3 linked regions of the Homo sapiens genome follow. The protein of the gene in region 2 interacts with the protein of the main gene of each other region in a biochemical or structural test. Each region holds a gene or a part of one and is shown on either strand. Other genes may lie near its edges. The genes, in order: SH3RF3, PAK2 and MYL2.

What was found.
Region 1: the proteins of PAK2 (region 2) and SH3RF3 form a complex in vitro, tested with the Homo sapiens proteins (one study listed by BioGRID).
Region 3: of the proteins of PAK2 (region 2) and MYL2, one has a biochemical effect on the other in vitro, tested with the Homo sapiens proteins (one study listed by BioGRID).

The regions. Positions count from the first base shown.
Region 1 is NC_000002.12:109,494,581-109,504,600, reverse strand, and holds part of SH3RF3 (E3 ubiquitin-protein ligase SH3RF3), read right to left. Parts: intron 3,099-10,020; coding exon 2,930-3,098; 3' UTR 1-2,929. UniProt on the Homo sapiens protein: Has E3 ubiquitin-protein ligase activity.
Region 2 is NC_000003.12:196,804,130-196,814,149, reverse strand, and holds part of PAK2 (serine/threonine-protein kinase PAK 2), read right to left. Parts: intron 8,799-10,020; coding exon 8,767-8,798; intron 7,572-8,766; coding exon 7,464-7,571; intron 6,369-7,463; coding exon 6,236-6,368; intron 3,561-6,235; coding exon 3,497-3,560; intron 1,932-3,496; coding exon 1,883-1,931; intron 1,412-1,882; coding exon 1,299-1,411; intron 1-1,298. UniProt on the Homo sapiens protein: Serine/threonine protein kinase that plays a role in a variety of different signaling pathways including cytoskeleton regulation, cell motility, cell cycle progression, apoptosis or proliferation.
Region 3 is NC_000012.12:110,908,746-110,918,765, reverse strand, and holds the end of MYL2 (myosin regulatory light chain 2, ventricular/cardiac muscle isoform), read left to right. Parts: intron 1-2,975; coding exon 2,976-3,051; intron 3,052-4,441; coding exon of another isoform or gene 4,442-4,475; coding exon 4,476-4,580; intron 4,581-5,441; coding exon 5,442-5,520; intron 5,521-5,621; coding exon 5,622-5,670; intron 5,671-7,590; coding exon 7,591-7,689; 3' UTR 7,690-7,921; downstream 7,922-10,020. UniProt on the Homo sapiens protein: Contractile protein that plays a role in heart development and function.

The sequences.
Region 1 (10,020 bases), on a different chromosome or scaffold from region 2:
ACACAGGCATCATGGTTTGTCATCACTGACAAGTCTTCCAAAATCACACGCTGACATTTGTGTCTAACAAAAACACTTGGGATAGGGTGTGTGTGTTTGTGTGTGTGAACTGTGCAAAGTACAAAGGATCTCCCAGTCGGCTGAGCCTGTTTTGAAGTGCCCGGCCTGGCATCACCCCATGAGGATGCCAGGAGAGCACCCGTGGCCGCCATCCTCTCTGCCTCCCTCTGGGCAGAGGCCCCTGGTGGCCTGCAGTCCTGTCCCCTCGGTGTCCACTGACTTCAGCCATGGCTGTGGACTCTACCATGCTCCTCAAAGGAAATCTCTGTGGCCCCCCAAGGCCACTACATGGCTAAGATGTGTACATCATGGGGCCAGGATGAAACATAAGGGTTAGTTTCATCTTAACCGCCAAACATGTGTACCCTTTGAGGCAAGATGGCCTGAAGAAAGGGCTAATTCTGCTCCTGCTCTTCTCTGCGAGCTACATCATCATGAAGGCTGCAGGGCCTGAACGAGTTTAAAATACTCAGAAATGCACATGGGCCATGCATTTCCTCTGCTCTCAGGCAGCCCGGCATTGGCTCCAGAGCTCTGGCCAGACCCACGCATCGCTCTCCTTCCTAAGGTGGCACCAACGCCCACCCGACTCTGCCCTGAAAGCGGCCAGCTGACATCCTCCAAAGACATGGAGATATTCGCCCCAGCTCTCTACCATGCTGCATGCAGTGGGCTGTGTCCTCGCCCCCCACCAGGAGGGTGAAGCACATTTCTACCTGAAGCACCACGTGGGCCATGCCTGGGAGAGTAAGAACGTTCAGGTTACTCTATTCTGTTGCTTGGTACCTGCGCGCCTTAAAAAAAAGACTTCAAAAAAGTTACCTGGAGACTTGACTTGGTCTGGTTTCCCTGGAGAACACCTGCGTCATCCAGGTTGTTGATCTGTGCACCTCTTTGGTGACAACGTGAATTTAAACACGCACAGGATTTTGGTGCAGGATGGGCAACTGATGAAGTTTGGCAATAATGGTAAATAGAGAGCTTTTGGTTGTCATTAACCTGGCACACAGAAGTTACTATGTTTAAGCCAGACTTTTTCTTCTTTGATTCTGAACAACTTCTTTGAGTCTATTAAATCTATTATCATCTTGGGGGAGGGAAAGGCATGACCCCCGCCGTGTGGTGACCACCTGGAAGTAACAAGTAGCCAAGTCACGTCCCAAAACAGGAACTCTGAAAATAAGCGGCCCGTGTTTCAAAGTCTTCATGCCAGGCAAAAGAATGTATTTCTGGAATTGGTTACATCCCTGAAAACCAATGACACCCTATGTTACCAAAGGCTAGTTTCTTCAGCTTAATTTAAGTCTGAATGGTATTTGTAAAAATATAGGTGGAGAGAGGGGTGATGGATCAAAATTTTGAGGTGATAAAAATGTGTTCCTAAGGTGTGAATCTTGAGAACAAAATTGTCCCTGAAGGGCTCCTGATCAGTCTTCCTGGGAAGTGAGCCATGGTGCTAATGAATATACATTCATCAGCCCCACTCAGGGAGGTCCCAGCATCAAAGCTGCACCTCCTCCTCTCTCGCCCTCCCAACTCCCCGATCTTGCAAGCCTGCAGCGGTGCTGCAACCCCCTGATCTCCTTGTACCTCTGGTCTCCAGCAGATGAAGGTTTGCACTGCCTGAAATGGGAGCAGTTATTTATTTTTAAAAAAGAAGAAAAATGGTGGTGGTGATCTAAACTGTTGTAGAAACTGCACATTTTGATACCAAGAAATCATCTTCTGAGAATGCTAATTGCAGTTCTCTCTGAGGCAATAAAGGGAAGATTTTGCCTTCCCGGCTGGGGTTGACCTGCGTGCTCCTTCTACCGCCACACAAAAGGACAATTATAGTGGCCCTTCCTCGAAATGTTTCCAGGTCTTGAATAATAATCATCACCGTCTAGACAGAGCGCGGGGTTTTGGTAAGAGTTTAAAGAAACCGGCTGCTTCCAAGCTCCCTCCGACCCCCTCAATGGATCCACCCCGCCAGCCCCCAGAGTACTGGCCAGCGCTGAGGTGCGGGATGGCGGCTTCTCGGCGCTCTCCCAAAGCCATATGGGAAATATAAAAATTCTGCCCCTTTGATGTCGCCTCAGACATCTTTTCTTTCAAGCTCAACCAAGTCATTATTAGTTTTACAAAAAGGCAGCACCAGATGTATGAAAAATAGGCAATGTCTGACCTATTAGAAATATATAAAGTCTAACAGCTTTATGTTAAAAATATGCTGTAAGAAAGAAGTAATGCAAGGGACAATGGTGGTGAACAGAAAGTGTTGCTTATACTACTGGCAGGCGACAAGCCCACAGATTCTGCTCTGGTTCCCAACAGGGGCGGTGGGGTGCCCCTTCCGGGGCACCCCCAGGGCCTCACAAACACCCCTGCTGAGCAGCCGGGCGGCAGGTGACTGAGGTATATAGAATGGTGACAGAGCAACCTGGGCCCCGCGGGAAGCCCAGGGCAGCCCAGAAAGATGATCTCCAGCGCTCCTGGCCCCCATGCCACCCACCTCGCCTGCAGACCTCCTGCAACCTCCAACCCTGCTTAGGTGGTAAATGAGAACGCTGCCATGGCTGCAAACCACAGCCACAGGCCTGCCTGCGCCGGCACCTGCCTCTCTTCCTCAAGGTGCTTTCTTTGCAGTTTCCACAGAGGGGGTGGGCATTTCCTTGAAGAACATCCCAGGTGTGCTCTCCGTTTGGGGGTTTTGGGAGAAGGCACGACCTCCACAGTCCCTGGCCCCCACCCTGGGCCAGGGTATCCCCCGCCAGGTGCCTTGGAGATGACCTGGAACCCTTGGGGCGCCATGGCTCCCTCTCTGTGTGCCGTGGAGCTTCCCAGGCGGCCTCCCCCTCTGTGAGCTGGGTGCAGGGAGCACCAGTTCTCAGAAGCTCTCGACGAAGCTGCCCGGGAAGAGGCCTGTGCGGCCGTTCCGCTGCAGGGTCCCCTTGTACCAGCCGTCCTCACGCTTCTTGTGCACAAAGACGATGTCGCCTTCCTTCAGCTCGATCTCCGCCTCACTCTGGGGTGGGTACGAGACCACCACGCGGTACCTGGGGAAACAGCACAGTGGGTGAGCCCCACACAGACAATCTCCATCTGCTGGGTCGTGCTTTCTCTTCTTCCCTCGGTGTAAATTATTGTTATTTGCTGCTATTTTCCCACTTTATACAATTTCTATTTATCTTTATTTTTAATTTTTTCAAAACTCTGGAAATTTTTCATTTTTTAATAAAAAAAATTTAAAAGGCATTTCCCCCTGCTGTCCTTTTAGACGCTGATCTACGAAGAAGCTGGACTGTTTCACTCCCTTGAAGATTCTCCACCCAAGCACAGCCCCCCATCTCATATCCACGCTCCTGCCCTGGCCCACCCACCTAGACTGCGGCCTCCCAGGGGCAGGGGCGGGGGAGGGTCAGGAAAAACTGTGTCCCCATTTGCCCCATCCCAGTGTCAAGACCCTGGGCTCGTGTCCTCACCTCTCCCTCTGCAGGTTCCTCTGAAAAGCACGCTCCTCAACTGCAGCACCACCTCACAGGTTGGGGCCCAATGTGATGTGTGAAAGGTACTTGGAACATTGTTTATGTAAATTGTCCTTATTTTTTTGAGACAGGGTCTTGCTCTTCCACCCAGGCTGGAGTGCCGTGGTATGATCCTAGCTCACCGAAGCCTTGAGCTCCCAGGCTCAAGTAAGCCTCCCACCTCAGCCTCCCGAATAGCTGGGACCAAGGCACATACCACCATGCCCAGCCAATTTCTAATTTTTTTTTGTAGAGATGGGGTCTTGCTATGTTGCCCAGGCTGGTCTTGAACTCCTGAGTGCAAGTGATCCGCTGGCCTCAGGCTCTCCAAGTGCTGGGATTACGAGCATGAGCCACCGTGCCTAACCTGTCCTTATTTTTAAATGTGCTCCAAAAATCATAAGATTTTTTTCCCAGTGCCTTAGCATTGGAACTGGCTGAGGCCACAACATCAACATCAATAAGGCCCAACTTTCCCCACATCTCATTTCCACAAGACTTGGGCCCCCTGCAGCCTCTGAGGCCTCTTTGGAGTCCCTGTCTTCAGACCAATATGCTGTAGTGTGGAATCAGAGACAGGAGCCTTCCCTGGGGTCTTCCCTGCATGGCCTCCGCCTGCAGGGACCCAGGGGCATGGGGTGTGCTGCGTGGCAGGTGCTGGAGCTCTGAGTGCACCCCAGGGGCTCTCTGGGCTGTGGCAGGTGCTCCTGGCAACACTTAGCTGTGGCACTGACCAAGAGTTCTCTCCTCGACCACACTCCAGCCTGGCTCCTCTGAGCCCTCTTCTTGGCTGGGCCTCACCTCTGCCTATAACAACTTGAACAACCACTAACATAGCTTCTAACAGCTCAAGGTGGCATCCCTAGGCTGACCCCAGTCCCCTTTAAAGTGCCTGCCTGAGAAACCTCACGGCAGCCAAAAGAATCGACTGTGGGTTCCAGCCACACCTGAGGACAGCCACACACTGTCTCCTGACTTCAGTGAGCACGTCAGCATGTCCAGATGTGTTCACACGGACCACCCGCTTCCACCATCTGTAACTTTTCACTTCCCCCACTCTCCTGAGCCCCCACTCGCTGCCTCCCTGCTCCCTCATTCTCTCTTGGAAACCCCCAGTCACTTGTGTGCCAATTGAACCTGAGCTCAGCTCAGCCTGGACCCTATTCCCCATTGCAAATGTCAGTTATGTTGCCGATTAAAACCTGTCTGACTACTTTCACTAGTGTCCGGCTATGATTATGTTTGACAGGACACACACACACATACACACACACCCCCCTGCTCTGCTATCCCACACCCATCCTGCAAGCCACAGAGGAGGAGGAACAAGGCTGAAAAGCAGCTGTGGTGGCCCCAGGAGAGCCTTCCTCTAAAACACTGCCAAGGACGAACCAGTTGGGCCTTGTGCCCTCGGCCCTTATGCTTAGAGTCTGACAGGCAGGGCCCCATCCCCACTCCCACTAGCTGGGCCTCCCTCTGCCCTGGGGAAACTCCACAGGGGCATGCTTGCCCGAAGCCTGGCTGGGCCCCTGCACCCCCAGCCCTTTTGTGGGTGAGGATTGTGCAGTAAGGGCTGAGAGAAGATGCCCCTGGGCCACCAGGGTGTTGGACCGCACATCTAAAGCCCAGATCCCACATGTGGTGGATTTTGTGGCAGGCAGGGTGCAGCTATTCTCTCTGCCTAAAAACCCCTGGCTGACGGTCCCTCAGACACCCACTTTGCTGAGCAGCACCGAGATGGGCCTGGCAGGGCGAAGGCACTCAATAACCAGCACTGGACTGCCCGGGTACCCATCTCCACAGACGCCGAGGCTGTCTAGGAGACACGGCCCCCGCGGCTCTGGATGCCTTCCCTGGTGGCCTCCGTGCAGGTCTCCTGTGGGTGGCTCCTGGTCCTGGCGGCTGCCCACTCTGGGCCTCCTGCTTTCACCCTGCTTGGACTGAGTTGCCTCACAGCTGAGGCTCCTTTTGGGCAAAGGCTCAGAGGGCTCCAGCAGTCCCCATCCCTCTCAGAGGAGGGGCCACAGTCTAAACGCCCCAGCATTCCCAGGCCCTCCACACTGCGCCCTTCCCACTCCACCAGCTCTGCCCTGCCGCGCCCTAGCGACCCCAGGTGCACCCACCTCAGGGCTCCTCCATATGCTGCTCCCTCTGCCCAGAACGCCCTTCCCTGTGTGGCCACGCCGGGCCTGCCCTTTCCCAGCTCTTACCATCTTCCACTGCCCAGCCATTCACCTGTTTACCCAACCCATCCTGCCTCCTGCACCAGTCTGCAAGCCCCATCGCCACAGGGATTACTGCACACCTGCTCCAAGTGTGGCTCACATACTTCAGGACCCCCCACAGTTCCCTGGGCCCATCCTGGACCTACTTGATACTACTTAGGGGGAATGAACTAGGGAATGTGGATTTTCAGCAGCTCTGGGAGGGAATGCTTGCACATTGGTGTCTGAAAATCGAGCTGAGTGCATGCTCAGGGAGGAAGCCTTTGCCCTTCCCCACCCCACGTGTTCACAGAGCCTGGGGCGCAGAAGCCATGGCTTTGGGGCAGTTTGGCTTGGTGCCAGGCTCAGGAAAAATGTGCAGACAGGAGACCAAGGCCCAGTCCTATGGAGTGCACAGCCCCTGGGCACACAGGCCCAGCTTGCACCAGGCTGGCAAGAGGAGGAGGCATGGAGGATGGGCTCCTGAGGCTGACTTGGGGGTGCAGTGTTCCTACTCCTGGGGAAGCAGAACAGGCCAGGTTCTGGGTCGCAGTCCCGAATACCAGCCAACTCTAAGTGTCTCAGAGCATCTACGGGTGCACGATGGTTGGACTGGTTCCCATGGGCTATCTGCCGGCGAACCAGACTCTGCTCTCAGGGACATGCAGGCGGGAAGGAAGGAGGGCAGGCGGAGGCACCTCCTTCCTCCCAGCTCAGCGTCTCTGTGAGGGCTTCCTGCTGGCCCTCCTTCAAGGAGGACAGATGGCTGCCGGGATGCAGCCAGCGGTCTGTGAAATCAGACAGCATACACACAAACTGAGGCTGCGAGGGCCCACAGGATCAGCGCCATCCTACCTGTGGCCTTCTGCCATCCTCCACCTCTTCCAAACACCTGCTCCTCCTCTCTCTTCCCCAAGGAAAGAAAGGAAGGCAAAGGGCGAGATGATTTCTCAGACTTTGAATGCAAGTTTTGGCTTTTGCCTCAACTTCCAGATGTGAAATAAACAAGCAGCTTTAAAAATATAATTTGTTAGAAAGATGTAATTTGGTGCTTCTGAGCAATTCAATGATTTAATGAGCCCAGATGGATGTGGGCTGAATTTATACGAGACAAGTGTTTAACGTTTCTGTCCAGATCATTCCAAGACTCTGAGCTGTTCTTCCTGCTGCAGGAAAGTAATTGATACTCCCCGTTATAGACACAGAGCGCCGTTGTCGTGTCCGTGTCAGCAGCTGAGGATGACAGCTACTCCCAGGTCACAACTGTGCGTCATAAATCAGCAAGCAACTCTGCCCTGCTGAGTATAATTAAGGTTATGGCAACCACAGCTAATTTTCAGACACAGGGCTCAAGGAATCCAAATGGGCAAAATCAGAATGAATTCTCATTCCATTATTATTACCATTAGCTCTGTGTGCGAGGTTTGGATGTTCTGCTTTCCTTGGGGGTCGTCTGCTTCCCTCCCTGACAACAGAGTCTGCAAAGTGGCCCTCCATGTGGTAGCCTTTTCAGAGCACTTGCTCCAACACAGGAAGACGAATGAGCCCCTGAGTCCATGGAATGTGCTGGTAACAGAGTGGTGTCTGCTAGGAACTTGGGGATAAGAATACTTCTATACCCTGGACACTAAACTGTAATATCAACACACATATTAGTTGTTTATGGCTATAACGAATGACCATAAATGTAGTGGCATCATACTATAAAAATATATTATAGTTCCGTCCATCAGAACTCCAACGTGGTCTCACTGGGCCAAAATCAAGGCATCTGCAAGGCTGGTTCCTCCTGCAGGCTCTAGGGTAGAAGCTGTTTCCTTGCCTTTCCAGTTGCTAGAAGCTGCCTTCATCCCTTCTCTGGAGGCTTCTTCCTCCATCTTCAAAGGGGAGTGCTCACATCATGCCACTCTGACCTTCTCCTCTGCCTCTCTCTTCTACTCATAAGGACCCTTTGTGATTACACAGGGCCCACCTGGATAATCCCGGGTAATCTCTTTATTTTAAAGTCAGCTGGTTAGCAACTTTAATTCCATCTGCAACCTGATTTCTCTTTGCCATGTATGGTAACATAGTCATGAGTTTTTAGGGTTTAGGGCATAGACATCTTTGGGGGCCATTATTCTGCTCACCACACACATAATGGATCAGATCAAGGAACGCTGAAATCCTAACAAAGCCATATAACTCACAGGCCATCAAGAGCTGAGGATGAGCTGATCCGATGTGAACATCTGGGGAGAAGCAGGTCAAAGGGGCAGGAGTCGGCCAGGCCGTGCTGCAGGTGCCCTCACCCTCACTGACTTACTATTATCATAGATGTCACAGCATATGTTACTATTAGAGAGGTCATAGTGAAAGGTGAAGCCAGCTGGACTTCCTGGGTCGAGTGGGGACTTGGAGAACTTTTCTTTCTTATGAGAGGATTGTAAAATGCACCAATCAGCACTGCAGCTAGGAGTGTAAAATGCACCAATCAGCACTCTGTAGCTAGCAAGAGGATTGTAAAATGCACCAATCAGCACTCTGTAAAATGCACCAATCAGCGCTCTGTAGCTAGCAAGAGGATTATAAAATGCAGCAATTAGTGCTCTGTAAAACGCGCCAATCAGCACTCTGTAAAATGCACCAATCCGCACTCTGTAAAATGCACCAATCAGCAGGATCCTAAAAGTAGCCAATCACAGGGAGGATGGAAAAAAGGGCGTTCTGATAGGACAAAAACAGAACATGGGAGGGGACAAATAAGGGAATAAAAGCTGGCCACCCCAGGGCAACCCGGTGGGTCCCCTTCCATGTGGAAGCTTTGTCCTTTGCTCTTCACCGCGAAGGTCTGTGGCTCAATTCTTGAAGTCAGTGAGACCACGAACCCACCAGGAACCAACTCTGGACACAATAGCATATATTATTATTGTTGTGTTTAGTGTGCACTCATACTTTTTCTGGTGTTAATCTAGGTGATTTACAAGTATTATACCCAGACATGTATTATTATCCCCATTTTATGTATGTGGAAACTAGGACTATAAAAATGAAGAAAGGGGGCCAGGTGCAGTGGCTCACGCCTCACGCCCAGCACTCTGGGAATCCGAGGTGGGCGGATCACTTGTGGCCATGAGTTTGAGACCAGCCTGGCTAACATGGCGAAACCCCGTCTCTACTAAAAATACAAAAATCAGCCAGGCATGTCAGTGGACGCCTGTAATCAATCCCAGCTACTTGGGAAGCTGGGCACAAGAATTGCTTAAATCTGGGAGGCGGAGGTTGCAGTGGGCCAAGATTGCACCGCTGCACACTCCAGCAGACAGAGTGAGACTTTGTCTCAAAAAAAAAAAAAAAAAAAAAAAAAAAAAAAAGGAATGAAAGATATTCAGGATGAAATGGCCGGTAGGTGGCCCAGAGTGTCTGTCTACTCAAAGCCTCTCTACGATACTTGATACTGCCAAGGTGCAGAAGAGCCAGGAGGCAGGCATCCAGTGGGCAGGAGGGGCTGGTCCCAGAACTCAGCTTGCCTGGCCCTGCACCAGAACAGACCAGGGTTGGTGTAGCTGGGGAACTGGGGCATTAGACGGTTCTAACCTGATGCCATGTGCATTTGCTGCCTGCATTTCCCATGACCACACCCGTATTCTGAGTTCCACAAGCAACTTCTGGAAATTCAGCTCCCTCTGCACATAGTCCGCAGGACAAGAATATGCCAGACACCTAAAGATGAGGTCCTCTTGGAAGGAACGGGGCATGGCCCTCTAGGTGACTTACACCCCAGGCTCGTGGGCTTGGCTCATAAGTCTACTTACGAGACTGGCCTGCTGCCTGCCAGCTGCTGGGGCAGGGCAGCTGAGCCTGCCAGCCTCGCTGACCCGGCCCCAGATTGCTGCTCACAGTACACTCCCCTAGTCCTTTCTCAGAGGAGCTCCCTCTGCAGCACCTTCTACTTGAATGTCCTTCCTCTGAGAGTGGAGAGGAGAGCAGCGCCCGCTCTCTTTCCAGAGTCTTGAAAGAGATGGTTGAGATCTGGAGGAGTCTGGGCACAGGAAAGGCCCAAGAAATGCAGGCAGCAACACTGCCCATTCCTCCTTGGCATTTTGGGGTGGAAACCTTGACCCTGACAGCCCATACTGCCCTGCTGCCTGCATTCCCACTTTCATGATCACAGGTGGGCCTTGCACACCTGAGGCCCTCCAGGAGTGCTTGGCAGCTGAGTGTTCTGGCCCCACTGCAGGGACTCTCACCTCTGCACAGGGCGCAGCCCA
Region 2 (10,020 bases):
GACAAAGGCTTGGAGAGGTGAAGTGACTCATCCAAGGGCACACAGCTATTAATAGGAAGTGACAGAACCAGAATATGAAGCCAAGGATCAACGATTCCGAAGCCCCTGGCTTATCTTAACCACCACACTATGCTGACTTGAAATGTTATTTTAAAAAGCAGGGAACTGTACCTGAAAAGTTTATTTTTTATTTATTTTTTTGAGACAGAGTCTTGCTCTGTTGCCAGGCTGGAGTGCAGTGGCGCGATCTCGGCTCACTGCAGCCTCCACCTCTTGGGTTCAAGCAATTCTCCTGCCTCAGCCTCCTGAGGAGCTGGGACTACAGGTGTGCGGCACCATGCCCAGCTAATTTTTGTATTTTTAGTAGAGACAGGGTTTCACCACGTTGGCCAGGATGGTCTCGATCTCATGACCTGGTGATCCACCTGCCTCGGCCTCCCAAAGTGCTGGGATTACAGGCGTGAGCTACCGTGCCTAGCCTGAAAAGTTTATTTCTATGAACATGTTCTCCATAACTAGGGATAAAGTCTCTAAACATTATTTTTTCCTCATTCTAAACAAATTTAAATATGGAAGAAAATCACCTATAATCACCTCTATCTTCAATAAAACCACTGTTATCATTTTCAACGAATCTTCTCTCATGCAGTTGTAGTAATATACATCATTTTCTTTTCTTTTTTTTTTTTTTTGAGATGGAGTCTCATTCCATTGCCCAGGCTGGAGTGCAGTGGTGCGATCTCGGCTCACTGCAACCTCCACCTCCTGGGTTCAAGCAATTCTCCTGCCTCAGCCTCCTGAGTAGCTGGGATTACAGGTGTGAGCCACTGCACCCAGCCAATATGCATCATTTTCTATTCTGCTTTTTGGTCTGTTATTTAACATTAATTCCTCAACTAAATGAGGTTTTGATAGACATATAAATTTGTCCATGAAGGATAGCATTTGAAATAAAAATTGATCCACAAGTTTAAAAACCATGTAACCAGTCCCCTCTGTCAGTCAAGACACGAATCACAGCCAACCATTCATGTGTTCGCTTCAGGTCGTTTGCGATGAGTATAAACACCACCAGCTATGGCCTTCAATTAACTGCCTTCTCTCACCTGCCAAGTGATGTCCTTGCAGAGAAGGACCTTCTAAAACTGCACTGTGCTATTTTTACCTCTCCTCTTCTTTCTTCCATCTTATTTCTCGGCACTGACAGTTTATTCCAAAGTGGCCAGCCCCACCCCCGAAACCATGAGACTTAAAATTTCTACATTTTCTCCCGGTGTTTAAGGAATAGTCATACTTACCTGTCCAAAAAGTTAACGATGTTGGGATTTTTCAATTCTTTCATCACCAGAATCTCGTTAATGATCAGTTCCTTCTTTGGCTGTTTCTGTAAATTAATTTGTTTGATAGCAACCTATAATGAAAACAGGATTGAAAAAAACCAGGTTTAGGAATTCTCTTAGAAAATTACAAACCCCAAGCAGTTGATAACTCACGGTACGTGTACTGTATTACACCATGCTATTACTCCCAGGTGGCACCTTGCCTTGCACACTGCCTGTGCACAATGCTTTGTAATGTTTAGAACCTAGTTTTAGATTTATCTTGAAGTTGATTAATACACCCACAGTCAGTCCAATACTAAGAATTAATCCTCTTTTCACTTCAAGCTGAGGAAACAATTTTTAAGTATTTGCTTATTTATGACATTGAACTCATAAGTCCTTCCCCGCCTTACTGACAGAAGTGCTATAAACATACGTAGAGCGATTCTTACAACGGGCTCAACTTAAAAGAGGTTCCTATTGCTTCTTCCCAGCTTCATCTAGTTTCCACCTATATGACAAAATAATGGTAACACCCAGGATTACAACAAAGTAACTACCTCCTGTCCCAGTGCAACGTCAGTAGCAGTGAAAACTGTACCAGAAGCCCTAGAGGGAGAAAACACACAACCAGATTTAAGGTTGATAAATCACTAGCATTTGCAATATCCAAAGACTTTACACTTCAAGCAATTGAAAAAGAATTAAAGAACAGGATGACCTAACGTGCTTAAAAGGAGTAAAAGCAAAAACCTGAGGAAAGGGGGTGGGGGAAGAAAGAGACAATCCTTACGGCAAAACTTATGTGTGAAATATTTCAGACCTACAAAAATGTAGGGAAAAAAGAGCAGGAAAAAAATTATATAACATATACTTAAGGATACACTTCCCTGATTAAGATACAAATAACTGTAAATAATTTGAAGATTCCCATAAGCCCTTTCCGACAGCAGTCTCCTTCCTCCCAAAGGTGATCTGTATTTGGTGTTTATCCTGTATTTGGTGTTCATCATTTTCATGCATTTCTCCATACTTTTAACTACAAAGGACGCAGATATGTATCCCTATAAAATATACTTTGTCTAATTTTTAAACGTCATATAGTTTCATTTCACATATTATTCTGCAACTTGCTTTTGTGACTCAACACTGGATTTGTGATGGTCATCCATATGGATAGGTATTGCTTGTTCATTCATGCTCAAAAATAGTAAGATAATCTTCAATTCTCTTTCATAAAACCAGTGCTGCAATTGAATTTAGCTGTTAGGAAGAAATTCAGGCCTGGTGCAGTGGCTCACACCTGTAATCCCAACACTTTGGGAGGCTGAGGCAGAAGAATCGTTTGAACCCGGGAGGCAGAGGTTGCAGTGAGCTGAGATTATGTCACTGCACTCCAGCCTGAGTGACAGACTCCGCCAAAAAAAAAAAAAAAAAAAAAGGGAAGGAAGGAAGAGAAGGAAGGGAAGGGAGGGAAGGAAGGGAGGGAAGGGAGGGAAGGGAAGGAAGGAAAGGAAGGGAAGGAAGGGAGGGAGGGAAGGGAGGGAAGGGAGGGAAGGGAAGGAAGGGAGGGAGGGGAGGGAGGGAAGGAAGGGAAGGGAAGGGAGGGAGGGAAGGGAAGGAAGGGAGGAAGGAATTCATATGGAAGTTTTCAAAAATGGCTTAAGCCCTCACTCTAAATTCACAGAATGCTTTCCAGAGTTTAATAACATTAAAAATTTAGGTGTTTATTTGCTTCCAAGCAACAGAAAAAAGGAGTTTAGTTAGTATACTTTAAAAATACAAATTACACAACAAAATCAGAAGATCAGTAGACTCAAAAGTCAATACACAATGACATGATTTAAATGCATTTTTTATTGCTTATAGTCATGCAGTAAATATTCTTATTGTCTTTTAAATATATTTTATGGGCAATTCTTCCCTCTAATTATCACAGATGGGAAATGACACTTAAGAAAAAATAATGATACACAGTCATTGCTAACAACTAGTACAGTTTTTTAACAGCATCTACAAATAACTGCATTATTTATTTACACAAATCCCCCAAGGGTACCACTCACAGAATACTATATAAGTACTTGATGTCGGCAGGCAAAATAAACATCATGCTATAAAGCCAGGAAATACTGAATACTGAATATTATCGTAATACAGTCACAAATACTTACCCTTGTCCAATTTTTTCATATCTTGTATATTTTTTCTTAGGGTCACCTATGCTCACGATAGTTCCTAGAATAAACAAAAAGCTGGAAGCTCAGTCAAGCATTTTAAGTGTAAATTGATTGTGATATTATTATTCCTTTTAATGAACTCCACTGTTTTTATAAGTGATTTTCAAACATAATACTAAGTTCCAAAAATAACAGGTTTCAAACACAAAACACTAAAGAAACTTAAATACATAATAAAAGTTTAAAAGTATCAGAAACAAGACACATTAAAAGTTTAAAAGTAACAGAAACAAGAAGACACATTATTTCCATTAGGTTAGACCTCCTAACTAATCATTTGCTCAATAATGGTCACATTTTGAAAAGACTGTACCAGTTTGTCAGAGATTAATTAGGTTCTCAGATGTTCAGCTTTAGAATCAGGTAATCTCAAGAAAATAGACATATTTGAATATAAAATAGATATATTTGAATATAGAAATAGATATATTTGAATATATCTATTAATAGGTAAGTTTGAGACTACTTAGTATTATAAATAATAAAGGCTATCTAAACCCTAAATGGTCTTTCTGACTCTTCCAGTATACATTTCATCTTTCAATATATTTAGAAAACCACTTATTACCATAAAAATTACTATGCTCTGACATAAACTAATCATATGTTTGTTTTAGGAAAGTTCAAAGTCACAAGAAAGAGGTTTTAAAATTAGGAAGTTGGACATAAAATCCTAACTTATATTCTTATTACTAGTAAGAAAAACCACATTAAACTTTCACTTGCTCAAGGTAAAAAAGGACAGGACCATATCAAGGAAACTGACATAAATAGTTTTATGTAGGTACCCAACCTCAAGTCAACAAGCAAAGAAACAGGATCAATAATAAGAGGCTAAGAACAAAAAGATACCAAAAAGACTGGGGATGTGACAGCTAAAGGTCACAACTAAATGATGACAATTAGGATTCTAGTTAATTTTTTTTTTTTTTTTAAGTAGCAGCTCTCCTAAAATAATTCTTATATGCTCATAGAGTAACAGAGCAGGCCAGGTGTGGTGACTCATGCCTGAGGTCAGGAGTTTGAGACCAGCCCAGCCAACATGGTGAAACCCCATCTCTACTAAAACTACAAAAATTAGCGGGGTGTGGTGGCGCACACCTGTAGCCCCAGCTACTCGGGAGGCTGAGGCAGAAGAAACGCTTGAACTGGAGAGGCAGAGATTGCAGTGAGCCACGCCACTGCACTCCAGCCTGGGTGACAGAGCGAGACTCTGTCTCAAAAAAAAAAAAAAAAAAAGATAATAATAATAACAGAGTAAGAGCCAGGTTTATACTTGAAAGCACTGAGAAATCAAAACCAAATAAACATGGGGCATATAAACATTTGTTTATTTTTTAGAGACAGGGTCTCACTCTGTCACCCAGGCTGGAGTGCAGTGGCGCAATCACAGCTCACTACAGCCTTGAACTCACGGGCTCAAGCAATCCTCCTGCCTCAGGCTCCCAGTCAGCTGGGACTACAGACATGCACCACCAGGTCTCGTTAATTTTCTTTTTTTCTTTTTTTTTTGAGGGGGTGGAGTCGGGGTCTAAGTTGTATAGTTCGGCCTTGAACTCCTGGACTCCAGCTATCCTCCTATCTTGGCCAGCCAACGTACCGAGATTATAGGTTTGAGCCACTATGCCCAGGCTTTATGTTTAAAACAATCCTTCCATACAGTATTTTTCCTTGAACCCTCTAGATTAGCATTCTTTAATTGTTAATTTTATTTATTATTATTTTTTGAGACTGAGTCTCGCTCTTTCGCCCAGGCTGGAGTGCAGTGGCACGATCTCGGCTCACTGCAATCTCCGCCTCCCAGGTTCAAGTGATTCTCCTGCCTTAGCTCCCCAAGTAGCTGGGATTACAGGCACCTGCCATGACACCTTGCTAATTTTTGTTTTTAGTAGAGATGGGGTTTTGCCACATTGGCCAGGCTAGTCTTGCTCCTGACCTCAAGTGATCCACCCACCTTGGTCTCCCAAAGTGCTGGGATTATAGGCATGAGCCACAGTGCCCGGCCGGTTCGCTTTTTTTTTTTTTTTTTTGAGATGGAGTCTCACTGTTGCCAGGCTGGAGTGCAGTGGCGCGATCTCGGCTCACTATAACCTCCGCCTCCCGGGTTCAAGTGATTCTCTTGCCTCAGCCTCCCAAGCAGCTGGTACTACAGGCACATGCCACCATGCCCAGCTGATTTTTGTATTTTTAGTAGAGGAGGGGTTTCACCATACTGGCCAGGATGGTCTCGATCTCCTGACCTTGTGATCCGCCCACCTCGGCCTCCCAAAGTGCTGGGATTACAGGCGTGAGCCACCGCGCCCAGCCCAACGACGCAATCTTGGCTCACTGCAACCTCCACCTCCTGGGTTCAAGTGATTCTCTTGCCTCAGCCTCCAAGTAGCTGGGATTACAGGCACATGCCAGCACATCCAGCTAATTTTTGTATTTTTAGTAGAGACGGGGTTTCACCATGTTGGCCAGGCTGGTCTTGATCTCCTGACCTAGTGCTGGGATTTAGGGGTGAACCTGGTGACATCACCAGATTGTAATTGAAGCTACTGTTGCTATAAGGAAACAATTTATTCTTTATACTTTAAGTCACAATGTAAAGTGTAAGTTAAAATCCATCTGGGCCAAATGTTTTAAGAGCCGTGAACAATTTAACAATGATGTAAAATGTAGATAACATACTTAATTTCTCCATAATCTCTTCATCTGTCATCTTAGTCTTCTTTTTCTGTTTGTCTAAAGACTTGGCAGCACCATCAACATGTGAATCACCAACTGGTGCAGGAACAGGGTCAATTACAGACCGTGTGTAAATCTGTGGAGACACAGTTCATTACCAAGGTTTGAGGAATAATGTTTTCAGATATTCTTCCTGGCAAACTAATTCAGTTCTTTGATTTTTAACCTGAACTAAGTAGTCTTTTCCATTGTTCTAAATAATGAGAACACTATTTTCAGATATAAAAGATGTGTAACTAAGAAGAATAAATGTGAAACATTTTTCTTTGGCATAGCATGAATATATTTGAAAAGCTGTCTAGTAAAACAGCAGGTCCATGAATGAAATTTAAGTGTGACCAGGTCTAAAATGGTATAACAATGTATCAAAAAGCACGGTTTAAAAATCATGTTTTTACTACAAATGGTAAGTAAAATGCAAAAGAACAGAAACCTTGATGTTGAAATAACTATTATTAATTCCCATGAAAGTTTTTACACAATTATAATGCCTACCACCCATTTCAAACAGCCAGATTGAAAGGCTAAAGAAAACGGAGTCCTCTGCCATCAGCTTGGCATCCAGAGGCTGTCTCCTGAGCTCTGCCTGCCCGCTGTGCCAGGAGCACAGCCCATTCCACGGCACAGCACCTTCCGCACACTCTACCTGCAGTACTGAAGGGAGCAGAATGGTAACCGCAGTCATTCCTCTCTTCCTGGCTCCATTTAAGGTCATCATTTTTAAAATTCTCCCTTACCTGGTTAGGAATTTCATTCTCAACTGCCTTTTGAATGACAGCAAGGCGCTGAGAGTAGTGTAAAATGGGAGATTAAAATGCATAATCTGGGTAAGAGGAAAGCTCTAAGTTTTAGATTTAGTCGTCATCTACATTGAGATAAACAGAGAAAGCTTGGGAAATAGACGAACCCTCTGGAAAAGGTGTACTATACAAAGAAAAAAGCCCAGTGAGGTGAGTGCGTTAACTTTTAAAGACATCACATTTTAATCTTCAGAAAACTAGTTTTAGGTGAGTGGTCTTTGGGTACAGATTTCTTGGTTAAATTTCCCCATACTAAACGATTTTAAACTTGAGGGCTTTTTAAAAGCAATCACTGAAAGTCAAATACAAACTCTGCTATTTTTTAAAACACACGTGCACACACACAGCCTAGATCACCGATGGAGACTCACTGATTTCGTATGATCCGGTCGCGGGGCAATAACGGGAGGAGCAGTCTCTTCATCATCATCCTCCTCCTCTGTCACTACTGCGGGTGCTTCTGTTCCCTTGGCATTCAGCTGCATTGATGATGAGCAAAGTAAGGAAAACAAGTCCAATAGGCTTAAATGCGACTATCGCCCTTTATGAACGTACTTCAAAAAGTTTGCTTCTTTGATAGCTCATTTCAAAACCACTAAATCTCATTAGCTCTTAGATAACTCAATAGAATTATAATCTAACATAATAAGGCGATTCTATGAATCATGAAAAAGTTTATGAAATATATATATATGGTGAGTACCAAATATTTTAATAAAGTTACCCTAAGCATACATATACAATGTCCTGAAAGTAAACAATGTTACTTGTTAAGACCAAAATCAAAGATCCTCTGGGCTTTGTTATGTCAGAGACATCTGGTGACATTTAAAACAGTCAGATTTGGGGCCGGGCATGGTGGCTCACGTCTGTAATCCCAGCACTTTGGGAGGCCGAGGTGGGTGGATCACAAGGTCAGGAGATCAAGACCATCCTGGCTAACACGGTAAAACCCCGTCTCTACTAAAAACACAAAAAATTAGCTGGTCGTGGTGGCAGGCGCCTGTAGTCCCAGCTACTCGGGAGGCTGAGGCAGGAGAATGGAGTGAACCCAGAAGACGGTGCGTGCAGTGAGCCAAGATTGCGCCACTGCACTCCAGCCTGGGCGACAGAGCGAGACTCTAACTCAAAAAAAATAAAAATAAAATAAATAAATAAATAAAATAAAATAAAATATAAAAAAATAAAACTCCAGGAGACTGTTTCCTCCCAATTGAGAAACTGCAAATAAAACGACTGTTTCCAAAAACTGACTGTGTTTATGCGATAACTTAAGTTTCAGATGACTCTGAAGACTGACAAGGTTCAACTGTTCAGCACCTTTCCACAGTCTATATTCAGTAAAATAGTACCAGAAGGAAAACTGAGGGATGGAGAGGAAAATATATGCTAGCAAGTTCTTTGTGTTCACGTTTGTATATGTTAACATTACCAAAACTAACTAAACTGTTCTGAAGGTCATTATAAATTTTAGTTACATTAAGTATCACATCAAGGAATTTCTATTTAATACGGCTTCTTCAACTAATCAGGTGGCTAGCTAAAAACACCTATTGAGTAGTTATTTACCTCTGATGGCTGTAATTTATTTTAGAAAGCAAAATAAAAACTGAGATTTGTCTTGGGTAACCTAAATTAGAACAAGAGATACAAGAAATAATATAATTAACTTACTGCTGGTGTTCCAGAAGGAAAGCCATCTTTCTCTGAATATGAAACAAAACATAACATTAGCAATTCAAGAAACAGCACTTTTATATGATAAAAGGAAAAAAAAAAAGCAGAGAAAGTGAAATGTTCTTAAACTGATTTCAAGTTGAATTAACTCTTGAGAAAAATGAACACGCAAGTAGTCAAATAAGAATTTATATAAGACCAAGGTAAGAAATCTGAAATCTACATGAAACTATAAATTTAGTAAAAATCAGTGAATTATATATTTAAAATGGGTGAATTGTATTGCATGTAAATTATACCTCAATAAAGCTATCAAAATTTAGTTTGAAAGTATACCTATCAATCTGTATTTATTAAAACAAAACAAATTTATTGATAAAGATACTTTCTCCAGAAAACTGCTGACTGAGGAACTTAATGCAACAATTAAGACAATGACAATTGTGCAAAGTAAAATTCTGACATTGTTTTGTTTTTCTTTTAAAAATGCCCAGAGACATACATATATGTGTGTGTGTGTGTATATGTGTGTGTGTATATATATATATATATGTGTATATATATATATATATATCACACACACACACACATATCACATATTACATACGCACAGGCCGGGCGCGGTGGCTCATGCCTGTAATCCTAGCACTTTGGGAGGCCGAGAGACAGGCAGATCACCTGAGGTTGGGAGTTCAAGACCAGCCTGACCAACATGGAGAAACCCAGTCTCTACTAAAAATACAAAATTAGCCAGGTGTGGCGGCGCATGCTTGTAATCTCAGCTACTCAGGAGGCTGAGGCAGGAGAATTGCTTGAACCCGGGAGGCGGGGGTTCTGGCAAGCCGAGATTGTGCCACTGCACTCCAGCCTGGGCAACAGAGTAAACTCCAGCTCAAAAACAAAACAAAACACACACACGCACGCGCGTGCGCACACACATATATGTATGTATGTGTACTAGGTGAAAATAAGCTACCATTTTGTGGTCAAACATTGGTTTTTCAAAAAAATTACTAATTTACACACAGACTTACTGGTTGATAGAAAAGTTCTAGGAGCAAGTGTGACCTTTTCCTAACGGTGTACTAGACTCAACAAAAAAAGGTCAAGATCACTTGAAAAAGATTTCTATTTCTCCCTTGCACATGGCCTTTGTTTCTGTGAGGATGCAAACAGTAAGTAAAATCAATTAAAACCACATGTACGATTTTAGCTCCATCATATTGCTTTTGAAAACCACATGTATGACTT
Region 3 (10,020 bases), on a different chromosome or scaffold from region 2:
TATATATTTATTAAACAAAATTATAATCTTCTGTGCCCACTGATTACACCTGCATTTTTTTCGTTGAGAAATTCACCATTAACATTTCCTATCATGTATTTAAACCATTTCCTATGGTTAAATATGACATTTGTTTATAATGTTTTACTACTATAAATAACACCTCTTTGCTTGTATCTCTGGTTATTTCTTGGGGGTAAATTCCTAAAAGCAGAACTGCTGGGTCAAAGGAACTTAAAACAACAACAACAAAAGAACTAAAAACAGGCAGAACTGCTGGTCCGAATTGCCCCCCAAAATCACAGCACTAATTCCTATGCCCAGCAGCCTCGTGCCTTTCCCCACATTTCCATCAACGCTGGGTATTAATAGTCACAATTTTTTTTTGCCAGTCTGAGAGGTGAAAAGCAGTATCTTCTGGGTTTTACATTTTACAGTCTTTGATTATTAACCACTAGCCCCATTTGAAACCCCATCGCATTTGATGGCAATGGACCTTATGAAGAGAACCAAAGTACCAATTAGGCCAAACTGCACACGGGCTTGGATGGACAGGCTCAGAATTCATTTTCCAGCCGTTGCGAGGGCTCACACTGACTCATCCACATTCCCACCTGGCTTTCCAGAGGGAACTATGCTAAAATGATGCTAAAGAGACCAGACTGCTTTCTTTTTTTGTGCGTGTGACAGAGTCTCGCTCTGTCACCCAGGCTAGAGTGCAGTGGCACAACCACGGCTCCCTGCAGCATCAACCTCCCAGATTAATCAATCCTCCCACCTCAGCCTCCTGAGTAGCTGGGACCACAGGTACACACCACTGTGCCCAGCTAATTTTTGTGATTTTTGTAAAGATTGAGTCCCCCTGTGTTGCCCAGGCTGGTCTCAAACTCCTGGGCTCGAGCAATTCTCCTGCCTTGACCTCCCAAAGTGCTGGGATTACAGGCATGAGCCACTACACCCTGCCCTAGTGTGCTTTATATCAAAGGGGAAACCATTTGGGGCTTCCAAACAGGAAATGAACAGTCGTACCTTTTGTCCTCACTAACATTCAGATTGCAGGAATGCCGTGTCCCATAGGGAAAGAGAAATTCCTGAGGCAAGTGTCATATCTGAACTTGAGATAGTCACCTTCCAGGCAGAAAGCTACACCCGCCTCTTTTCCCAGCCTCTGGCATCAGCTGCCGGCGGTGTGGGTAAGGGATGCAAAGAACTCAAAACATGTAGCCAGGATTCCCCATTTGGTCTGTTTGTTTGTTTGTTTGTTTGTTTGTTTGTCTGAGTAAATGGGATTACAGGTACTCACCACCATGCCTGGCTAATTTTTTTGTATTTTTACTAGAGACAGGGTTTCACTGTGTTGGCCCGGCTGGTCTCAAACTCCTGGCCTCAAGTGATCCCTCCGCCTCGGCCTCCAAAGTGCTGGGATTACAGGCGTGAGCCACTGCACCTGGCCTAAAGCTATTATTTTTTAAAAAGCTAAAAACTGGTGTCTCATCTGGCCTCTCCACTCCCTAGCCTGCCCTATCTATAAAATGGGACCAGTAATCTATCTCAGCTGACAGTCAGGGAGATTCTCAGAACTTTATAAATGCCCAAGTGTTTTACAAATGAGGAATCACGGGCCAGGCACAGTGGCTCACACCTGCAATCACAGCACTTTGGGAGGCTAAGGTGGGCAGATCACTTGAGGTCAGGAGGTTGAGACCAGCCTGGCCAACGTGGTGAAACCCTGACTCTACTAAAGAAAAATAAGCTGGGCATTGGTGATGCGCGTCTATACTCCCAGCTACTCGGGAGGCTGAGGCAGGAGAATCGCTTGAACCCGGGAGGCGGAGGTTACAGTGAGCCGAGATTGCACCACTGCACTGCGGCCTGGGTGACATAGCAAGACTCTTTCTCAAAAATAAATAAATAAATAAATAAATAGCTTTATAGAGTTATAATTTGCATACCATAAAATTCACCCTTGAAGTGTGCAGTTTTGTGGTTTGCAGTATACTCACAAAGTTGTGCAACCATCACCACTATCTAATTTCAGAATATTTCCATCACCCCCGAAAGAAACCCCATACCCATTAGCAGTCACTTCCTGCTCCTCCCTCTCCCACCAGCCCCTGGCAACTGCTAATCCATTTTCTGTCTCCATGAATTTCCTGTTCTGGACATTTCATAGAAATTGAATCATACAATATGTGGTATTTGTGTCTGGCTTCTTTCACTGATGTTTTAAGGCTCATCCATGTTGTAACCTTTGTAGGAATTTCCCTCCTTTTTATGGCTGAATAATATTCCATTGTATGGACAGACCACATTTGGTTTATCCATTCATCAGTTGATGGACATGTAGGTTATTTTCAGTTTTGGGCTACTGTGAACGATGCTGCTATACACATTTGTGTTCAGGTTTTTTTGTTTTTGTTTTTGTTTTCCGAGATGGAGTCTTGCTCTGTCATCCAGGTTGGAATGCAGTGGCATGATCTCAGCTCACTGCAAGCTCTGCCTCCTGGGTTCAAGCAATTCTCCTACCTCGGCCTCCCAAGTAGCTAGGATTACAGGCATGCGCCACCACGCCTGGCTAATTTTTGTATTTTTAATAGAGACGGAGTTTCACCATGTTGGCCAGGCTGGTCTTGAATTCCTGACCTCAAGTAACCCACGGGCCTAGGCCTCCCAAAGTGCTGGGATTACAGGCGTGAGCCACTGTGCCCAGCCTTGTGTACAGGCTTTTATGTGGACATGTTTTCAATTCTCTTGGGTATATATCTAGCAGTGGAATGTCTGGGTCATATGATAACACGAGGCCTGACGTTTTGAAGAAACTGTTGGATTATCTTCAATTGTTGACTTTTAATCTGAGGTCCTACAATGATCTTTGAAGATCCCAGAATCCACTCCTGCCAAGTCCTTGGCCCAATCTCTTGGGCAACTCTGCCAGTTTCTCCCAGGCTGAGCTGCCAATCACTTCCCTTCCACAGGCCTTCACTATCATGGACCAGAACAGGGATGGCTTCATTGACAAGAACGATCTGAGAGACACCTTTGCTGCCCTTGGTATGTCACCCTCTCTAGCCCTGCATGAGGGTCTCTTTATCTCACATCCATGAGGAGCAGGAGGTGGGACCATCAGAAAAGCTCAAGATGGTGTCATTTCCCAAAGAAACAACTCTGCCACAACTGGTCTTTAAGACAAATTTCAGGGGATGGGAAAGAAGTGTTTAGTCTTTGAGTACCTTCAGATATCTTTTTTTTCTCTTGAAATAACTTTTTTGTGTGATTTTGAATGCAATGTCAGCTCACAACAGAAAATGGGGAAAAAATGCAGAAAAGTATAAAGGAGAAAATGACATCACCCAGAAGGTCATATTCCACTGTGAACATTCCAGTCCCTCCTCTAAGTCTTTCTAGACATGTCTGTTAGGTTTGGGTTTTAGTTTTTTAAATTATTGGAATCATTCTCTTTCGAATTTATCTTCTAAAATGTATCATCTCAACAGTGTGAGCATGAGTACATGGAGTTTCTTCAAAATATACATGCCCAATCTGCTACCCGCCACCACCACTTACTCCTGACCTTAGAACTCAGGGCAACCATACACAGCTGTGCAGACTGCGCACTGCACAATTCTACAGGGAAGTATTCACATTTGTAGTGAGTGTAGCTTTTTATACTTAAAACATACATTGGCTTAAAAAATGACAGATTTTTCTTATTTGCACAAAGTTAGGCTTGTGGCAGGACTAGAGCAGGTAAATCAGAACCTCCACGGCTGTGGGTTACAGCAGGTTTAACTTGTAAAAGTTCCCTCAGGTGATCCTGATCTGTCTCTCCCGCCTCCAACTGTGAAGGGCTAATTTACAACATGAGCCTTTCCCATTTGAGTGAAAAATGAAAATATCTGCATCAAATGTTCCAGGTTCTGAAGACACTATTTTAAATATAATGAACTGGCCGGCATGGTGGCTCACACCTGTAATCCCAGCACTTTGGGAGGCGTAGGCTGGAGGACCACTTGAACCCAGGACTTCGAGACCTGCCTGGGCAACATGGCAAAACCCTGTCTGTCCAAAAAACTACAAAAATTAGCCAGGCATGGTGGCATGCACCTGCAATCCCAGCTACTTGGGAGGCTGAGGCACGAGAATCGCTTGAACCTGGGAGGCGGAGGTTACAGTGAGTCGAGATTGTACCACTACACTCCAGCCTGGGTGACACAGCCAGACCCTGTCTCAAAGAAAAATAAATAAATAACGAACACCTTCCCACATCAGATGTTAGGGTCGCTTCCAGTCATTTGGTTATTATAAATAACACTGTCAAGAACATCTTCTCAGAAAAGATCTTTGCCTCCATCCACCCCATCTCTGATGATTTCTAGACTAGATTTCTTGAAGTGGAATCCCAGGAGCCAATGGCAGTGTCATAATGGTTCTTTCTCCCCAGCTCGGAGTCCCTGAGTGTGTGTTTCCTACCCTAGGGCGAGTGAACGTGAAAAATGAAGAAATTGATGAAATGATCAAGGAGGCTCCGGGTCCAATTAACTTTACTGTGTTCCTCACAATGTTTGGGGAGAAACTTAAGGGTAAGGTCGTGTGTGTGTGTGTGTGTCTGTGTGTATGTGTCTATGTTTCTTCGGGGGGGCTGGCAGAAGATGGTTAACTTTAAAAGAGATAAAGCACCATTGGAAAAAAATAATGAAAACAGCAACTTGGCTGGGCGCAGTGGCTGATGCCTGTAATCCCCAGCACTTTCAGAGGCCGAGGCGGGCAGATCACTTGAGGTCAGGAGTTCAAGACCAACCTGGCCAACATGGTGAAACCCCATCTGTACTAAAAACACACAAAAAAATTAGCCAGGCATGGTGGTGTGCACCTGTAGTCCCAGGTACTCAGGAGGCTGAGGCGGGAGAATCCCTTGAACCGGGATGTCAGAGGTTGCAGTGAGCTGACATTGTGCCACTGCACTCCGGCCTTGGTAACAAGGTGAGACTCTGTCTCAAAACAAAACAAAACAAAACAAAAACACAGCAACTAACATTGCTCCAAGACTTAACCTAAGTCAGACCTCATGCTAACCACTTTATATGCATTACCCCACTTAATAGCAACTAGGAGGTATGCTCTATTCTTATCACCAGTTTACAGATGGGGAACTGAGACTAAGAGACAGAAAGTCCCTTGTCTGAGGCCACATGGCTAGCAAGTGCCAGGGTTAAGATTTGAATCCCAGGCTTTCAAATCTAGATGATGTTTGACCTTGGGTTCTCAGCCCTCTCTTCGAAATACAGAGGCTCAGTGATCAGACGAAAGCAGGGTCTTTTTCCTCCATGCAAAGCAGCCTTGCTCTGGCCCCTTCATCTCTGGGGGAACTTGGGCCCTGCTGCCTGGGGTGCCAGTGGTTCCCAGCCACCCCCAGTACATGTAAGCCCTGTGTTCCGTTTCAGGAGCGGACCCTGAGGAAACCATTCTCAACGCATTCAAAGTGTTTGACCCTGAAGGCAAAGGGGTGCTGAAGGCTGATTAGTGAGTGGGGTCTGTGGGGGAGGAAGGGGGTTCCCTGCTTGCCCCCTGTCCCCCCTACACACACACAACTGACACCAACACCTGCTTTCCTTTCTCTGCAGCGTTCGGGAAATGCTGACCACGCAGGCGGAGAGGTTTTCCAAGGAGGAGGTAATGGGGTCCTTCAAGCACTCCCTCTAACCCAGCTCCTGGGTTCTCCTTCTGGGGGGCTCCGTCTCCCCTCTCGTCTAAAGCACCCCTGACCCCACACTGACAGAGAACCAGCTATCGTCTTCTGAGGCCTGGCCTCATTTCATTCTCTGCCACCCTATGAGGTAGGGACTGGCATAACTGCCATTTTACAGATAGGCAAACTGAGACCCAGGGAAGTAAAGTCACTCATCTAAAATAACAATAATCACACCTGTAATCCCAGCACTTTGGGAGGCCAAGGCAGGAGGATCACTTGAGACCAGGAGTTTGAGACCAGCCTAGCCAACATGAGGAAACCCTGTCTCTACTAAAAATACAAAAATTAGCTGGGCATGGTGGTGGACGCCTGTATTCCCAGCCACTCAGGAGGCTGACGCATGGCACGAGAATCGCTTGAACCCGGGAGGCAGAGGTTGCAATGAGCCAAGATCATGCCACTGCACTCCAGTCTGGGCAACAGAGCAAGACTCTGTCTCAAAAATAAAATAAAATAACAACACTAATAGTAAATGCCAGGACCTAGATTCAAACCTAGGTCTGCGTGACTGCAGGTTCTGCCTTGCTCACGATGCATAGAGACCTGCTTAGAGCATGACATTATTATGGCGTGAAGGGCCGCCACATACTGTCATGTGAGTTGTGCACTGAACAATTCTTCTAAATGTCAGTTTCATAAAAGTCATCAGACTGTGTATTTGTTGCAACAGCTTTCCAGAACTGGCAGTAAAGTGTCTGGTAATAATTTTTTTTTTTTTCAACTCAGGTGGTGCGGTAGTGAGTTTGGTAGAAGGGGCACTTTTGCTAATTTGCCAAAGCTTCTGTATGAGCAAGCAATGGTGCCGTCAACCTTATTAGTGAACCTTAATGAGTCGATTTTAAATGCTCCCCTCATAGCCTCACAGGCCTGTTTCCATCAAGTTCCACATTTTACTAAAAATTGTATGTAGATTTTCCCTCCCCCAAAATTCAAGCAGCTAAAAGGGCTGCCTTCACTTTCCACCTGCTGTGTGCTTTGAACAAGCTCCTTAACCTCACTGCACCTCAATTTCCTCATCTGTAAAGTGGGAATAATAATAGAAGCTACCTCATAGGAGATTGCGAGGATTCGACATGTTAATGTGGGGAAAGTGTGAACTTGTGGCAAGGGCAATATAAGTGCTAGCTATGAATAGCCAGTATGTTTTAAAAAAATAATAATAATAACTAGCCAATGCTTTTTAAATGGGGAAATTTTGTGTAAAAACAAAAATCTAGATTTCTGACACCCTGGACCCTGTGGTCACTTCATGTCACCTTTTTAGATGGCCACGTGTCTCCATTTAGCCATAGGACCTATCCTGCTCCCTTGCATAACCTGCCTGGCCCCTCGGAACCCTTGAGTTTGTGATCCCAGTGGAAGGCTGGGTTTCCAGGGACATCTCTGCATGATGTTTACTTGGGAGGGCCCTTGGGGTCAGGGAAGGAAGAACAGGGAAGGGCAAGAAAGGAAGAACAGGGAAGGGCAAGGAAGGAAAAGTGCATGAAGGAAGAAGTTGAGCCAAGATTTAGGCCCAAAGATCGGCACTGCTGACTACCCAGGGAGGGAGCTTATTCTACAGCTCTCCTGAGAGGTACCAAGTTGGGCGAGATGGCCGTGCCTTTATACCCCCACACCAATCCCATCCGCTGGCTGTGGGCTGCCCCAGAAAGGGCATGACCTTGGGCGAGGGGGCCCTGCAGCAGCTGGGGAAGTCCTTCCCCGGAGGACCCTCTGAGTGGCCCATGTTCCCATCCCCCACCCCCCAGCTATCCGTCCACTCAGGCCCCGCCCACAGCCCCCCACCCTCCGTCTCAGTTCCCCTCCCCTCGTCCTTAGCACGTGTTGCTGGCTCATTGCAGGTTGACCAGATGTTCGCCGCCTTCCCCCCTGACGTGACTGGCAACTTGGACTACAAGAACCTGGTGCACATCATCACCCACGGAGAAGAGAAGGACTAGGAGGGGGCTCGCTGCTGCGCCCTGGGCTCGTCTTTGCAGAGTGGTCCCTGCCCTCATCTCTCTCCCCCGAGTACCGCCTCTGTCCCTACCTTGTCTGTTAGCCATGTGGCTGCCCCATTTATCCACCTCCATCTTCTTTGCAGCCTGGGTGGCTATGGGTACTTCGTGGCCGCACATCCTACAGTTGGAAATCCATCCAGAGGCCATGTTCCAATAAACAGGAGGTCGTGTATTTGGTCACGACATTTCTCTGACAAACAGTGCCTTGTGTAAGGAAGGCAAAGGCAGATGAGCTAGTGACAGCCTTGCAGTCATTATTATTGAATCTTGGTGACTCTTTATTTAAGGTAGACCTTTGCAGCCACTCAGAACTGTTTCTATCAAGGATCACGTTTTCCTGGAATGTTACCTGGATGACCAAAGCCCTCTCTTCCAAAGAGCTCAAGCATTTAGAGGGCCTTGCTTCCATGACATCTGTCCCTTGGGATGCCATCGGAATGCCTCTCCTGCCAGTGACAGTGACAAGAAGGAAGCGGACTGACACATGGTAGGAACATAGCTCGTTCAACAGTAATCACACCTGCTAATCCTAAGAGGGTGACTTCTAGTTTCAGATAAAGTAGAAGTTGTCTGTACTTCTTCCCTAGCAAACTGAGGGAGTGGTACTGACTTCTGTCTCTGTCTGGGGCCCAGGCCTGGATGTGAGTTGACCTTTGATTTTGAATGACCACAGTCACGGTTGAAGCATTCAGGTCTGTTATGGCTGCAAGAGTCCCAGTGTAAGAAACAAATAGGGCCAGGTGTGGTGGCTCACGCCTGTGATGCTAGCGCTTTGAGAGGCTGAGGCAGGAGGATCACTTGAGCCCAAAAGTTTGAGACCAGCCTAGGCAACATAGTGAGATCCAATCTCTATAAAAAATAAATAGCCAGGCATGGTGGTGTGCACCTGTGGTCTCAGCTACCCAGGAGGCTGCAGTGGGAAGATCGCTTGAGCCCAGGAGGTCGAGGCTGCAGTGAACTGCACTCCAGCCTGGGTGGCAGAGTAAGACTCTGTCTCTTAGAAAAGGAAAAAAAAAAAAAACAGAAATAGGTTCAAATAACTAAGAAGTCCAAGGGCTTCAAGCACAATTGCACCTAGGAGCCCAGGCAGTGCCCTCAGAGGCTGGGGAGGCCTCTGTTTTCTGTCACGTTGCTCTGCTCTCAGCAGTGGCAAAATAATTAAGAGCAGCTCCTGCCCCTTTTCCAGCCCCTCAGCAATCCTAGAAGAGCGTACTCCTCTCTCTTCCAGCTCCACACAAACATCAGAACAGGGCCTTGTGGGATCCCTCTGGGGCACTTGACACCCCTGAGCCAATCACCATGGACTGGCAAGGGCAGTGCTCTGATGGACAGGCCTGGCTCAAATGATCAGCCCTGTGCTGGGGTTGAAATCAGAGTCCTCCTGAACCATATGGCCTGGAGATGGGAGGGAAGATTCCCCAGAGGAAAACCCAAGAAGAAGCAGGGAGTGGACTTCGGGTACTTCAAGTTTTCAAGAGAATCCCAAGAACCCTCCCAGCACTTTGGGAGGTCGAGTCAGGCAGATGGCTTGAGGTCAGGAGTTCGAGACCAGCCTGGCCAAAATGGCAAAACCCCGTCTCTACTAAGAATACAAAAATTAACCAGGCATGGTGGCACATGCCTGTAATCCCAGCTACTCAGTAGGCTGAGGCAAGAGAATCACTTGAACCCGGGAGGTGGAGGTTGCAGTGAGCTGAGATCACACCACTCACTGAGCTGAGATCACTCCAGCCTGGGCGACAGAGCCAAACTCCGTCTCGGAAAAAAAAAAAAAAAGAGAGAGAGAGAGAGAGACTCCTAAGAACCCAAGAACCCAGGACACAGCCCAAGTCAGTGATGTGATGGGAAGAAGCTGAAATGTGGTGACGGAGTGGAGCTGGGGTCACAGTGAAGGCAGGAGGACCCAGGAGGCCAGAGGAGCCACAGTTAGGGCCAGTCCTCAAGGCTTGACAATGACAACAGTGGGAGGAGCTCAGGGCTGAGCCATTAACAAGACGAATGAAACTGTCCCCTGGCTGCAGAGACCTGGGGCCCCTTTCAAAGCAGGCTGCGTGGGCAGGGACCCAGGGGAGTCATGGCCCCATCCCCATGACCCAGGACACCCCACACCCTGTGGTGACCCTCGCCCCTCACGGCTTCCCTGCACTCCAGAGTTGGTCCAGGCCGAGAGCCTCATACCCGGGCTCCTGTGGTCAGAGATGCAGTCCGGCACCAAGAAGGCGGGACTCAGGACACTCCAGGGCAGTGCGTGGTTCTGGGCAAGACACCCTG